Linked DNA regions of Homo sapiens: all the other regions are linked to region 1. The links come from fine-mapping of genetic effects on gene expression. A gene starts in region 1. Each other region holds a variant in brackets. All regions are shown on one strand. Distances are from middle to middle. Region 1 holds the start of IDE (insulin degrading enzyme). Region 2 overlaps IDE (insulin degrading enzyme). Region 3 overlaps KIF11 (kinesin family member 11).

What was found. PIP is the estimated chance that this variant, and not a neighbour inherited with it, causes the effect.
Region 2: its variant is the best candidate, but not a certain one, in a credible set for the expression of IDE in nasal epithelium (TOPMed, PIP 0.77).
Region 3: its variant is the best candidate, but not a certain one, in a credible set for the expression of IDE in fibroblasts (GTEx, PIP 0.71).

What each region holds. Positions count from the first base shown.
Region 1 is chr10:92,573,122-92,575,964 of GRCh38, forward strand. IDE (insulin degrading enzyme) reads right to left here and starts at 972. Exons shown (of 25, transcript NM_004969.4): 1 at 801-972. The coding sequence starts at 898. RefSeq lists a silencer at 372-821 and enhancers at 1,322-1,381, 1,392-1,631.
Region 2 is chr10:92,468,865-92,471,364 of GRCh38, forward strand. IDE (insulin degrading enzyme) reads right to left here. Exons shown (of 25, transcript NM_004969.4): 18 at 1,390-1,481; 19 at 15-126. Among named protein-coding and RNA genes, the nearest start is that of IDE, 100 kb to the right of the region's middle. The variant C/T (reference allele first, on the strand shown) is at 1,291.
Region 3 is chr10:92,622,866-92,625,718 of GRCh38, forward strand. All of the region lies in intron 10 of KIF11 (kinesin family member 11), which reads left to right. Among named protein-coding and RNA genes, the nearest start is that of KIF11, 31 kb to the left of the region's middle. The variant T/G (reference allele first, on the strand shown) is at 1,236.

The sequences.
Region 1 (2,843 bases):
TAAAAAGTATTCAGCGTTCACTACAAGCCTGAAAACGCCTAGCGTACGCAGATCAACGGTGCAGTGGAGAGGGCACGCCGCCGGATGGCAAAAAACCTGTGTCCTAATCCTGGTTTTGCCACAATCTCGGCAGTTGCTGGGAAATCAAGCCATCTCTCGGAGCTCCGGTTGTCTCCGACGTAAAACAAGGGAGCTGCTGTAGAGGATCCCGAGGTATCTTTTGGCTCCTAAATGTCCCCCGATAGGAAACCCCACACTCGTCTTCCAAGGCGGGAGGCAGGCAAACTTTTTTCCCAGCGCGGGCATTCCACACGGTCCTGGAAACTCAGTGCCCGGAGAAAAGGGCAGGGCTGAGGGCAAGGTGAGAAGCGGTCCCCCCGAAGTCGCCGGATTCCTTTACCCCACGGCTCGAGTCCGCCTCAGGTTCCCGGCCCCCTCACAGGCGGACTCCGGGAGAGTGACGCGGCGCGGCTCCCAGGTGCAGGCCGGGTGACTCTGTCCGCCCCTGCGCCCCCCGCACTAGTGGCACACGCCCCGTGGCCCCGGGTAGCGGCCCCGGCCCCTCACCAGCCCAAGGGACGTCCCCGACTCTGGACCAGGCCTCTGGCTCCCGCCTGGCGAGCCGCTCTTCCGGGCCCTGGGGCGGCCTCAGCGCGGCAGTACGGGCCCCAGGCCGGCGGGACGGGCGGCGTGAGGGGCAGCGGTGGCGGCTTTAAGTGCTGAATCACCACTTTGCAACCCGAGCGCCAAACCGCTGTGACCCACGGGGCCCGAGGGCCCGGGCGCTCCATTCCGCTTACCCACACAGGCGCTCCGGAGGCGGCAGGCGGGCGCCGAGGACTGAGCGGAAGGTGCTGGGCAGTGCGGGGTGCAGAAGCCACGCTAGCCGGTACCGCATTAGCCAGCGCAGTCGCCGGGATCACCGCAAACGCTTCCTGCTTGCGCTTCGAGCCGGCCCTGCGCACTGCGCATGCTCTAGCCGCGGCGCCGCGCGGTCTCCCGGGAGCTGCGGAGAGGTAGCTGCTCCGGGTTTTGCCTGGAGCCGGATGGGGCCAGGACGCAGGCGAGGACGGTGAAGACCGCGGACAGCCGAGGCCTGAGCAGGCGGACTGGAGGGACAGGGGTTTGGCCGGGGCGCTTTAGGAGCCAGCACCCAGACTTTCCCAGGCGGGGAGGGTCCCAGCTAGATCCCACCGGCCGCACTTGTGAGGGTGGCGACGTGTGTCTGACTGTGAGGGGGCGAGGGGCCGCTCATAAATCCAGTGAGGGCACACGGGGCTATGTTTTCTGAGGCACCCCCACTGACTAGCGTGCCGGACCCTGCAGGTGTTGGAACAAGGTTCGTGGTCGCGGCGGCCTCACGTAAAATGAATCCGCGGCCGGCGCGCGGCCCGCGGGCTCCCTCTAGAGCGCGGTGGGGACGTGGACCGCGAAGGCACAGATGCGCTGGAGACAAGGCTCGAGTGCGGCGTGGGGGAAATTCAGACGCAGGGGTCAGCGATAGAGAGGCCAGGACCCAGGGGGACGTTTCCATCCTTGGGGAAGTTAGCAGCTCTCTTAAGAGGAAGGTGCGGATGGGACGGGCGCCGCAGCAAAACAAGGCTTCAAATCCAGAGTAGAAACTACTACTCTTGTTAGTACTCCGTACTAGGAATACTACTAATGTCAGTCGGCTTCAGTGGTTACTTTTTAAACAAAGAATTTTCTCCCCAGTGGCTTTATGGGGCTTTGCACCCACGAACAACTTAATAGTTGTTATGAATCTAACTTTCCATAATACCTTATGGGAGTCTTTAAGGAAGAATGCTATTAGGGATGGTGACTTGCCAGCTTAAGTACTTTTAGGTTTCTGATTGACAGACGATCAAGACTGCAGCCAAAAACGGTGTCCTTAGTCCAAGTATTGCTTTAAATGGGAATTCAGTAGGAGGGTTCCTTAATCAAGTTGATGCTTTATCGAAGACGTACCCACGATCTTTTTAACAGTGCGGTTTCACCTAAAGGCAAACCTTTGGATGAAAACAGGTAAAAATTATGGCAAGCCTCCTAGTGGTGTTTGCAAGTGCATGGTTTTAAGAACCTTTAAATTACCAGTCCCAATGCAGAGTAGTCAATCACCTTGAAGCAGCTCCTCTGAGAGTGTTAATGCAGCCTTTCTGAATACATTTATGCTCCATTAATGGAATCTATAAATGGGCTGGGGTAGATTCAGACTTGGAGGGCTTGAAACATATACAATTTGGGGGACCTCTTTGAGACATAAAATACAAATTATAAATACAAAATTAGCAATCAGAAGATTACTATAGAGAGAAAATACATCACAACAAATACTCGAGACTTGGAGATTAGTACCCTTTTTTTTCCTGAGATCTCTTTAGGCTACTTATTAGAAATGCTTACATAAAAATGCTTCCAGATGGCCGGGCGTGGTGGCTCATGCCTGTAATCCCAGCACTTTGGGAGGCCAAGCCGGGCGGATAACGAGATCAGGAGTTCGAGACCAGCCTGACCAAAATGGTGAAACCCCGTGTCTACTAAAAATACAAAAATTAGCCAGGCGTGGTGGCATGCGTCTGTAATCCCAGCTACTGAGGAGGCTGAGGCAGGAGAATCACTTGAACCCTGGAGGCGGAGGTTGCAGTGAGCCAAGATCACGCCACTGCACTCCAGCCTGGGCAACAAAATGAGACTCTATGTCTCAAAAAAAAAAAAAATGCTTCCAGACAACAACTGGCTTTCCCTCTACAACTCCCAGTTTGGAGCCTGTGCAAGTGAGCAGCCCTGAAGTTTAAACTTCATTAGCTTCATGATAAATTTCCCTCTGGTTGGAGTAGATGTCC
Region 2 (2,500 bases), 100 kb before region 1:
ACATCTCTACTTACTGTCAGGGAGCTGAACTTCTCTATACCGAACCAGCTGACTTGGAAGGAGAGGTTTGGTATGAGCATGTTCAATGAGGGTGTCTTCAACCATCTGCATAATTCCTAATGCAGCCTATGGAAAAAGATATGTCCCAGCATATTACAAAAACATAAACATATCTTGTTTGTGAAATAAACTGGCTTTGTTTATCATAAAAGTGGATTCTAAAACCTTAAATATATTTGATCCTATTCAAATGGATAAAAATTGAATTTGTCAGTATGGTCATTTTGCAATAGAGTCAATATGGTAGTGGTGAAAGAAACAGACACCCAAACAATCATCAACACTGATGCTGATGCTGGAAAAAAGGCACTGCCAAAGATGGTCTCAAGTGAAATGATCCTGACTACAGACACCTGGGGTCACAGAAAAGCAAGGGAGGCAAACATAGGCTTTATTGTAGGTAAAATGACCTTGGTAAGAATCTTGCTTCTGCCACTTATTAGCATCTGACCTTGGGCATATTGTTCTGGAGGGGGTATAGCAGAGTGGTAGAGACCAAGGGATCTTTTCTTTTTTTTTTTTGAGACAGGGTTTCGTTCTGTTACCCAGGCTGGAGTGCAGTGGCACAATCATAACTCACTGCAGCCTCAACCTCCTAGGCTCAAGAGATCCTCTTGCCTCAGCCTCCTGAGTAGCTAGGACTACAGGCATGCACTACCACACCTGGCTGTTTTTCAATTTTTTGTAGAGTTATGTTGCCCAGGCTGCTCTCGAACTCTTGGGTTCAAGTAATCCTCCTGCCTCAGCCTCCAAAGTACTGAGATGATAGGCGTGAGCCACTGCACCCGGCCGAGACTGAGGGATCTTGAGACAGACTGCCACGGAAATTTTGTAGTGCTTTCCATGTGCTAAGTACTTAGCATGTACTATTTAATCCTTACCACACATGACGTAGGTGCTACTGTAACTCTAATTTTACAGAAAAGAAAACAGATAAGCACAGAGTTAAGACATTTTCAAAAGATTACAGATCTAGTATATAGCAGAGCCAGGATTTGAATCCAGGCTGTCTAATTCTACAGCACGTGCTCTTATCTACTATACAATTATGCCACCCTATACAGAGTAGGGATAATTACTCCCATTTCCTCCTATGATTGCACAAGGTAGAAAACAGCAGAGGAGGCAGCCATGAAAGTTAGGTCCTCAGTTAATCACCATCATTCTACTTTCCCTGTGCCCTCTACCTTCCTCCACAGAGCAAGAGGGTTGAGTAAACTCTAATGTGTT[C/T]CTTATCACACCATGCTGGTTAACAATCTTGAGAAAGACTAGAGGGAAAAAATATCTTGCAATGATCCACAAAAGATTGCTAAAACCTCAACCACCCACCTGCTTTGTTATGTTTCCATGGAGAAGGGCTTCAATGTGCAGCCGTGACAGGAGCTGAGGTATGAAGGCCTTAAGGCGAGGAAGGGTTACATCTGCAAAGGTGTAAGAAGACATAGTGAGCGCTACCTATGAGGGATTTTTTGTTTGAGATAATTTGAGACTTACAGAAGACTTGCAAAAATAGTACACAGAGCTCCTGTAAACACTTCACCTAGTTTTCCCTAATGTTAACATCTTTCATAACCATCAAAACTAAGAAATTAACATTGGTATAATACTATTAACTAAAGTACAGACTTTATTTGGATTTTTCCCATTTTTATCTTTTTTTTTATTCCAGGATTTGATCCACAACCCTCCATTACATTTAGCTGTCATATGTCTTTAGTTCCCTCTAATCTCTGACAGTTTCTCAGTCCTTCCATATATTTCATGATCTTAAGACTTTTGAAGAGTACTGTTCAGTTATTTTATAGAAGTCCCACATTTGGGTTTGTCTGGTGTTTTCTCACAATTAGATTTCATGTCTGTATTACCACAAAGAATACCACAAAGGTAATGCGCCTTTCTCACTGCATTCTATCAGGGGACTCATGAAGTTGATATGTTGTAGTACTAGTGATGTTAAAACTGATCACTTGGTTAAGGTGGTGTCTGCCAGATGTCCTCACTGTAAATGTATTATTTTATTCTTTTATTTATAATTTAATAACTCATATGTGCTCTATATGCAATTTGGAAAAGCCCACTTGCCCATCTACACCTATTTTTCCCTTTGTAATTACTAAATATTTATTTTGGGAAAAGTAAATGAGATTATACAAATATTTTCTTTTTCTTTAAATTTGACCCACTAATTTTAGCATCCATTGGTAGTTATTGCCTGTAGCAATTATTACTATGGAGTTCTAATGGCAATTTTTCTATTTCCCTCTTTCTTTTTACATATATTAATTTAATCCTTCTGTAAGGAAGAGCTGTCCCTTCTCCATTAGGACACCATAGTAATAACTGCTACATGCAAGATCTACCAATGGATGCTAAAATCAGTGATAGACATTTAAGGAGAAACATGGGAATGCAAATAACAAGTGCTTACCACAGATCAGGA
Region 3 (2,853 bases), 50 kb after region 1:
AGCAAGCACATATTCACATGGCGGCAGGAGAGAGAAAGTGAAGAGGAAAGCACTGCACACTTTTAAACAACCAGATCTTGTGAGAACTCATTCACTATCATGAGAACAGCAAGGGGGAAGTCCATCTTTATCACTCGGTTATCTCCCATCAGGTCCCTCCTCCAACATGTGGGGATTATAATTCAACATGAGATTTCAGTGGGGACAGAGAACCAGACCATATCAAGATGTGTATATAGTAGTTCTATGCCATTTTGTCACTTGTATAGATTTGTGTAACCACCACTGCAATCAAGATACAGAACTATCCTATCATCACAAGGATCTTTCTTGCTAATTCACTGTAGTCACACTCACCTCATCTTTTCCATGATTCCTAACCCCTGGCAACCACTAATCTGTTCACTTTTTAAAGCCCTGGAGTAATTTGTTCAAAGGAAAGCTTTTATTGAGGCCCATTGTATAAAACAACAATAATAACAGAGAAAACAAGGGGAAGAAGGCAAGTGGGATGCTAAGGACTATAACTTGAAAATTCCTGATTGTGTTTATCCTTGAAGATATTAGGAAGCAAGACTTTCACAGAGCATTTTTTAAAAGTTAATAGTGATAAAAGATATTAGACCTAATAATAACCAGAAGCATTTTAGTATAATCTTTTACTGAACTTTTTTGTAGATGTTAACACTCTAATAGTATATAAATCATTTAATAAACTTAGTTTTTTCTGTGTTACTTCCAACTGTCATAATGTATTCCATGAATGTGTAAGATGCCCTAGAATCAGAACAATGTAAGATTGTGGGTTAGTGAACAGTTTACCATCACTAATGGAGGTGTTCTTTTTTTGATGCTTTAGAAGTAAAAAATAATTGGTGAGGCACTCAATCCTGGCCTGTAGTCTTTAGAAATGATATTGATTATTGGAGGCTTTCATCTTTCTGATTTTATTTTTGAACTTAAGAAGTAACTTTGGTTTTCATTTGTTTAGTCCCATGATTGAAAATATGGTGTTTGCTCTCTTTTTTTTTAACTTTTATTTTAGTTTCAGGAGTACATGTGCAGATTTGTTCTATAGATATATTGCATGTAACAGGAGTTGGTGTACATATTATTTTGTCACCCAGATAATAACCATAGAACCCGATGGATAGCTTTTCAATCCTTGCTCTCCTCTTACCCTCCACCCTCAAAGAGGCCCAGGTGACTATTGTTCCCTTCCTCATGTCCATGTC[T/G]GCTCAGGGTTTAGCTCCTACTTATAAGTGAGAACGTTTGGTGTTTGGTTTTCTGTTCCTATGTTAGTTTGTTTAGGACAATGGCATCCAGCTCCATCCATGTTGCTGCAAAGAACATGATCTCATTCTTTTTTTTTTTTTTTTTTTTTCGAGACAGTCTTGCTCTGTCACCCAGGCTGGAGTATAGTGGTGTGATCTCGGCTCACTGCAACCTCTGCCTCCCAGGTTCAAGTGATTCTCCTACCCCAGCTGCCCGAGTAGCTGGGATTACAAGCACCTGCCACCATGCCCAGCAAATTTTTTTTTTTTTAAGTAGAGATGGGGTTTCACCATGCACCATGTTGGCCAGGCTGGTCTTGAATTCCTGGCCTCAAGTGATCAACTCACCTTGGTATCCTGGCGTACTGGGATTACAGGCATGTGCCACTGCACCCAGCCATCTTGCTCTTTTTTATGCCTGTGTAGTATTCCATGGTGTATATGTACCACATTTTCTTTATCCAGTCTGCTGTGGATGGATAGCTAGGTTGATTCCACGTCTTTGCTGCTGTGAATAGTGCTATGATGAACATATGTGTGCATGTGTCTTTATGGTAGAACAATTTATATTCCTTTGGGTATATACCCAGTAATGGGATTGCTGGCTCAAATAGTATTTCTGTGTGTGTGTGGTTTTTTTTTTTTTTTGAGATGGAGTCTTGCTCTGTTGTCCAGGGTGGACTGCAGTGGCACAATCTCGGCTCACTGCAAACTCTGCCCCCCAGGTTCAAGCAAGTCTCCTACCTCCGCCTCCCAAGTATCTGGGATTATAGGCACCCACCACCGCACCTGGCTAATTTTTGTATTTTTAGTAGAGATGGGGTTTCACCATGTTGGCCAGGCTGGTCTCGAACTCCTGACCTCAAGTGATCTGCCCACCTCGGCCTCCCAAAGTGCTGGATTACAGGTGTGAGCCACCATGCCCTGCCGGTATTTCTGTTTTAAGTTCTTTGAGAAGTCGCCAAACTACTTTCCATAATGGCTGAACTAATTTTCATTAGTAGCATATAAGCGTTCCCTTTTCTCCACAACTTTATCACCATGTGTTATTTTTTGACTTTTTAATAATAGCCATTCTGACTGGTGAGATGGTTTCTCATTGTGGTTTTGATTTGCATTTCTCTAACAATTAATGGTGTTAAACATAGTTTCATATGCTTCTTAGCCACATATATGTCTTCTTTTGAAAAATGTCCACATCATTTGCCCACTTTTTTTTTTTTTTTTGAGACACAGTTTCACTGTTGCCCAGGCTGGAGTGCAGTGTGGCACGATCTCAGCTCACTTCAACCTCCACCTCCTGGGTTCAAGCGATTCTCCTGCCTCAGCCTCCGAAGTAGCTGGGATTACAGGTGCCTGCCACCATGCCCGGCTAATTTTTGTATTTTTAGTAGAGATGGGATTTCACCATGTTGGCCAGGCTGGTCTTGAATTCCTGACCTCAAGTGATCTGCCCACCTCCGCCTCCCAAACTGCTGGGATTACAGGTGTTAGCTACCGTGCCCCGCTGGGTGTATATGATTTTATACTTAGAAAACCCCATAGTCTCTGTCCATAAGCTCCTAGATCTGATCAACAA